Homo sapiens: one gene and its partner. The protein of the gene in region 2 interacts with the protein of the main gene of each other region in a biochemical or structural test. Each region holds a gene or a part of one and is shown on either strand. Other genes may lie near its edges.

Region 1 (3,653 bases), on a different chromosome or scaffold from region 2:
CTGGTCCTTACATGTCGGGTCTGTGGCAATGATGGGAAGCTGAGTCCAAGCAGCCTGGACTGGGATGAGAATGACTGTGCTCATTTTCCTGCCTCCACCCTCGGGCCTCAGTGTGGGGATGTGGGTAGCAGGGTGGGGTACAGTAGGAAGCGAGAGGCTCCATGGTGGATGATGAGGGGCAAAGAGAGGCTCCTCCAGGCTTTCACAATTAAGAAGAGGGGCTGGGTTCAGGACCCAGAATGAGGGGGCCCATCTGACCCCCCAGATCTCGATGTGACTGGGAGCCACTGTTGGGGCTGGCATCGGTGGGGCTGTGACTGCAGAGACCATGTGAGTCTCTGTGAGTGTGAGCAAAATCTGTGTGCCACAGAGTGTGTTTGTCATTGTGTGCTTGTGTTCTGGGCGATCACCAGCCTCAACCCCTGCAGAACCCTAAGGGCTTGTCAGGGGAGGAAGCGGCTCCTCTCCTTCAGTCAGTTGGGGTCTGGGCCTCTTCAGTTGATGAGATTAACCCGACAGCTATCAGTCTGAGTGCTGGTTGTGGGCAACACAGGGACCTGAGCTCGAGACTTAGGACAAGCCATGGATGCCCGAGCCTGCTGACTCCACTCTTGCACCACGCACCCCACTTTGGTTCTCACTTTGGCCTGGCCCCCTTTACCTAAGTCCGCCCCCACAGAGAGCCTTCACCTGGCTCTGTATCCTGGGTCCCGCCCTTGACTGGCCCCTCCCTCACCTGACCTCATCCCCAGACCCTCTTCCTTTGACCCCCACCTGGCCTCTGCAGGACCTCCTTGAGCCGTTTTTCGCACTGGGCCTGAGCACGGTGCAGCAGGAAGATCTGTTCCTCTTTAGTCATGACGTCATCTGCATCCACCTGCCAAGCCGAAGGTCAGACCACAGGCAGGACTTTCCGGCGCAGCAGCAGGTCCCAGAGACATCCCAATTTCCCAGAGGGACTACCCCCTTTCAAAAGGCCCTGACTCTAGAGGGAAGGTGGGATTTCCCCTGCATGTGGGGAATCTGCTCTATGGAGCTCACACCTTACAGATGGGAAGCTGTGGCTCTGAGGGGTAGGGCCTGCCTGATCGAAGGGAAAAAGCAGGGGCTCTCTCCTGCCTGCCCGCCAGTAACCCTGTAGGCTGCAGTCACTGATATTCTCTGTCCAGTCCTTTCCCCAGGGGTACATGGGACTGGAATGGAATGTCCCAGGATGGATCCACACAGGATCCTGGCTGCCTGCTGGGGACATGAGTCGGGGGCAGGGGGTGGATAAGGAGTGGTGAACTGTGGGGAGACAAACCCAGCCTGGAGTCCTTCAAGTCCTGGCACCCTGGGGGGTCTTGGGAGTCACCAGTTTCCATCTTGGCCCAGCTCCCCAGTCAATGCTGTCCCCAGTGAACGGTGAGTGCCTCAATGCCTCCCCTCCTTACAATCCCAAGAGAGAGAAAGAGAGGATGGAGGAACTGTTGGCATGCGGCCTGGGTTGGGCTGGGCACTCTGGTGCTGGCTGGGGGTGGGAGTCCCTCTCATTCCACTGCTTATCTGGGAGCTCCCTCCATCCAGACTCGGAGTTCTGATGACACTCAGGCCCTCACTCCTGCTGTTCTCTGCCTGGAATGTCCTTTCCCTTCCCTCCAACCTGCACACCCTGGGCCCTGGCTGCCACCCACCGGGACTCACTGGCCTCATTATAAGAAAGGAAATGAAATATCATGCGGGTGGAGGCTCACCCAGAGCAGGTGGCTGCTGAGGGGTCTCAGCCTCTGTCCTCTGACTTGGGAGCAGCCTGGTGTGCCTAGCCCAGCCATTCCCGTGAATGTGACCCGCAGAGGTTAAGGCGGTCTCTGAAACCTCCCCAGGGCGGGGCTGTGAAGCCCTCAGCCCCATCCCTCTTAATTCAGGGTCGTGTTTCCTCAGACCCCTGGGCAGGGGTATGTCCCCTGAGACGACCCCCTCCATCCCTACCCCAGAAGGCTACGTCTCCTCAGCTCCGCGGCAGAGCTGCATCCTTCAGACGCGCCAAGGCGGGGCCGGGGCCCTGCAGTCCGAGCATGGCTGTGAAGGGCGGGAGGACCCAGAGGAGGCAGGGGAGGAAGAAGGCGGGTCGGGCATGGGGCGGGCACCGGCGAGAGGGGCGGGCAGGCCGGGTCAGAGAGCCTGGCTGCAGGGAGAAGTTAATTGACCGCGTCTCTTGGCGGCAGCAGCGAGGGCTTCCAGGGCCAAGGAGTCTCCAATTGGCTCGGCCGGCCTTGGGTTCTGCTGGTTCCACTTAGCGGAGCCGCGTGCGCGTCCCTGTGCGTGCGCGCGCGAGTGGCAGCGCATTCTCGAGTGGCCGGCGCGTGCACTTGTGTGTGCCCGTCCGTGCGCGTTCTCACATGGAGACTGTCCAGCCTGTCAGTATGGGACGCGAGCCGGACGTGTTTGTGAGCATGCACGTGCACATGTATTTCTGGGCATAGGGCGGCGTGTGTGCGTCTGTGAGTGAGGCGGCAGCTCCTTAGCCTTTGCGTCTGTGGGTGGCCCGTGCTTCTGGTGTCTCTGGGGGCTGAGGTGGACCCTGAGATCTCCGCTGGTACTATGGACCCCAGGAAGGGCTGGAGCAGATCCTCACGTGCTGGCGGCTGGCCTAAGCTCCTCTATCCTAGTCTCTTTGCTTCCCCAGCTATGGCTGAGCTGGCTGGGGCAGAGGTAGACACAGAATGATGGGATGGCTTAAGGGAGGACAAGTTGGACTTGCCAGGATCCAGGGGCCTCCAAGACTAACCTGAAGCTCTCCCTGTGCCTCTGACATGGGGGATCCATGCTGGTGAGGGGGCTGATCCCTGTCCACCTCACTCCATTTACAGCACCCATTAACTACCATTTCCATCGTTGCTGCTAGTACCTCCATCAATAACCATCATTACTGTCACTAACACCAACACCAGCATCACCAGTCCCTCCCAGTACTACCACCACCACCACTGGCATCACCGTTACCACCATGAGCACTACTGTAACCATCCATATAACCACCATCACCACCATCTGCACCATCACAACTGGTACATCACCAGCACCAGCACCACTGCCACCACCTCCAGCATCACCAAGGCAACATTAGCACCATCAGCAATACTGCCACCTGCCCAACAACTACCATCTACACTGCCTTTGCCATCTTGTTGTCTTACCCCCTCCCCACTATCCTTCTTCTTCTGCCACCTCCACCCCTCTCAAGACAAACCCATTGTGCTGTATTTTCTCCAGCTGATGGAGAGCTCTGGAGTGACTGACGGAGGCTCCCACACATCCTTAGAGACTTGCTGACTCCCTGGGCCTCCCAACAGACAGACCAGCCTACTGATATGACTGGGGGTCACCCCTGATGGCCTAGACTGCAGGCAGGCAGTCATGGGTTGAAAACTGAGTGGCCATTGGGCAGCCTGACCACCGAAAGCTGACCAACACACCCCTCACTGGCTCAAGGAATTGGCTCAGCCTCTACCTCCAGCTGTTGGCTTCACCTTCTCCATGGCCAGGAGGAGGCACACCCCTTTTTCTGGAGTTGGGATGTTCAGGAGAGGGAAAGATATGTGCTTCCAGCACGCATGACTCCCACACTCCTTCATTCATCCATAGGGGTGGTGGCCCCACCTCTGGCCTCCCTG
Region 2 (2,778 bases):
GCAGCCAGCTGTTGGAAGTCCGCTGGGGAAGCAAGCAGCCCCCGGGCAGCTGGCTGGGGACCCTGGCCCCTCATGCTATCCACCGCCGGCCCCCCAGCTTCCCAGCCCGGACACCGCCAGCTCCTGAACTTTCATGCCCTCAAAGCCCAGCCTCTGCCAGGGTCCCACCCCTGTTTACAGAGCTACCCGGCCTTGAAAGGGACACTGGGGACCCAGGCAGGGCGCCACAGGGTACAAAGCTTGACCTGTGACTGCTAGAGGTCGCAGGGTGAATTGGGCAAAGGGTGGCCCGTGTGGGTGTTGTGTGGGGCCGGATGGCTTCACAGGGAAGGTGAAGGTGGGAGGCTGAGTCTGCCAAATAAGAGAGATGGGCATGGGCCCAGGATGTGCCACACAGCAGGGGGTCCCATGGGGGTCAGCGGGGGAGATGGAGCAGGGCTGGGAGCAGATGGATGCAGGGCACGGGCTCAGGAACGAGACCGTTTCCAGCTGCTGAGACTCGGGGAGGGGGCTCCCTGAAACAGCCTCATCCCTCCACCCCTCTCACCCCACGGGGAGGAGGCTCAGAAAAGACAGAGGCGTGTGGGTCCCAGGCAGGGCCTGTTTATCCTGAGAGCGCGCATGCGCTATGGCTTACGAGGCAACAGCGGTGCCGGTCGATCGGTGGTCGGTTCGGGGGTGCGGGGCCCGGGAGGGAAGTGCAAAGTCAACAGGGTGTCCACGGGGGAGCCCGCCAAGCAGGGCTGAGCCAGAGGCCAGGCGTCCTTCCCGGGTGCCGCTCTCACACACCTACGTTCCCCAGGCCTGGGAGCTGCCGCGCGGAATGAGGGGCCTGTCCAGAGGCCGCCCTCCTCGGGGACGTGGGGCCTCCATCCTCAGGCCCCTCGGAGAGCCCAGGCCCCCAGCAGGGCACAGGCGCACAGGGTAGCTGGGTGGGGAGCAGGGTGTGGCCTAGGGACCCCCACACCAGGGCAGGTGGGCAGGGGCAGCTCCTACGGCCACATCAGGCCTCCCTGGCCTTACCCAAGGTCCCCACGAAGAGGCTGGGCGCCCCAACTTGGCCACTGGGAAGTCCCAGGGACTCCCACTCAGGACGGCCGCTGCTGAGGGGAGGGGGCGGGGAGGAAATGGTTTGCAGAGAAAGGTTTGTTTTATTGCAATTATTTAGAGCGCGTCCCAAGGGGGAGGGGAAGGGGGAGGGGAAGGGGGGGGGTCTCTGGTATTAAGTGGAAACATGTGTGGAGCTGGAGATCTTTTTGGAAAAAAAGCAAAAACACAAATTCCTTTCAGTCAGCAGGCCCCGGCAGAGCAGCAAAGGCCCTCGCCCCGCGGCTGCCGCGCGCTCGCTCGCTCTCTCTCTGTCTCTCTCTGTGTCTCTCTCTCTCTCTCTCTGTCTCTGTCTCTGACTCTCTCTCACATCTCTGGGTCTCTCTCCCCCTATCTTGCTGCCACAGGCCCCCAGTACCTGGTGGGCAGGGGCAGGATGGGGGCTCACCGGGGCTGGGGCTGATTTCTGGGCAATGGCAGGACCACCCTCCAGTCCACTGAGGCTGGGGGAGCTCGGGGCAGGCTGAGGCCCAAGGTCCGTGCGGGAGGGGTCCCAGGGTCCCGAGACAGGCAGGAAGGGGCTCAGAAGTTGCTGAAGATTTCACGCTTCCTGTTCCAGTCCATCTGTGGCGCGCGCTTGTTGACTCGCATGGCTCGAGCCTTCTCCTTGGCCTCGGCCGCCGTGGGGCTCAGGTGGAGGCCGCTCTCCTGGAAGGGATCTTGCTTCCAGGCACTGCCATCCTGGGGTGAGCACGGTGGGTGGGGTGTCTGGAGTGAGCCCTAGTCCCACACCCCAGACGGTGGCCCCTCCTAGGGAGCAACCAACAGAGGCTGCCTGCTGGGGCTGGGGCTCACGAGGACTTCCTGAACAGAGACCCCACTGCCCGGGCTGACATCTCCACAGACGCCTACCCCAAGGCCTCTAGCAACCCCACGTGTGAGCTCAGGAGTGGAGAACATCCATACCTCAGTGTCCTTGTCGGAACCAGGCAGGTCACTTCGGGACGAGCACGCAGAGCCACCATTGAGCTGGGAAACCAAGGGCAGATTGTGGTTTCACAGACACACACAACACCTGCACACGCACACATGTGCACAGAGGCACACCCCCCCCCAGTGTGTGCTCCTCCACTCGGCAGGGGGCCTCGGGCCTCTGGTGGACTCCAGATGCGGCGGGGCAGGCACCGGGCGCCTGGCAGTGACAGGCAGGTGGCCTGGCCGGCTCATGGTGCAGAGGGGGTTCAGGTGCAGGAATGGCCGGCGTGAGCAACGCCTGGGGTGAGGCCACCGCCAGCTCCCTGAGGAGGCAGAGACTGGAGGGCAACTCCTTACCAGGTGGTGCCCAGGAGAGGACAGAAGGCAGTGGCCCCGACCCCAGGGGCCCCACGTGGCTTGTGTGTGGCACGACCCAGGATGAGACCCACAGGGGCATTAAAGGGAGGTGACAGGGCTAAAATCGGGTGTCACTAGCACACCTCGAGGACGGATCTCCAGGGAGAAGGGGGCCTCTGTCGGGCCTGGGTACCCCCAGAGGCACCCTGTGTCTCATGGGCACCCCACCCTCTTACCTGGGCAGGGCTGGTTCCATTGGTGACGGGTGACGGCAGAGGACCTGTGGGGACAGCGTGTCAGTGGCTGCTCAGCCACCACACCGCACCCACCCTGTGCCCTGGGCCGTGGCCCACCTTCCACGTGCTCCTCGGTGGGTGTGACCCGAAGCCGCTTGAAGTG

What was found.
Region 1: the proteins of NHERF2 (region 2) and PTH1R interact in a test that uses a peptide from one of them, tested with the Homo sapiens proteins (2 studies listed by BioGRID and IntAct, with this or other methods).

The regions. Positions count from the first base shown.
Region 1 is NC_000003.12:46,891,131-46,894,783, reverse strand, and holds part of PTH1R (parathyroid hormone/parathyroid hormone-related peptide receptor precursor), read right to left. Parts: intron 878-3,653; coding exon 775-877; intron 1-774.
Region 2 is NC_000016.10:2,036,836-2,039,613, reverse strand, and holds the end of NHERF2 (Na(+)/H(+) exchange regulatory cofactor NHE-RF2), read right to left. Parts: coding exon 2,733-2,778; intron 2,660-2,732; coding exon 2,616-2,659; intron 2,077-2,615; coding exon 2,014-2,076; intron 1,858-2,013; coding exon of another isoform or gene 1,828-1,857; exon of another isoform or gene 1,789-1,827; coding exon 1,630-1,788; 3' UTR 588-1,629; downstream 1-587.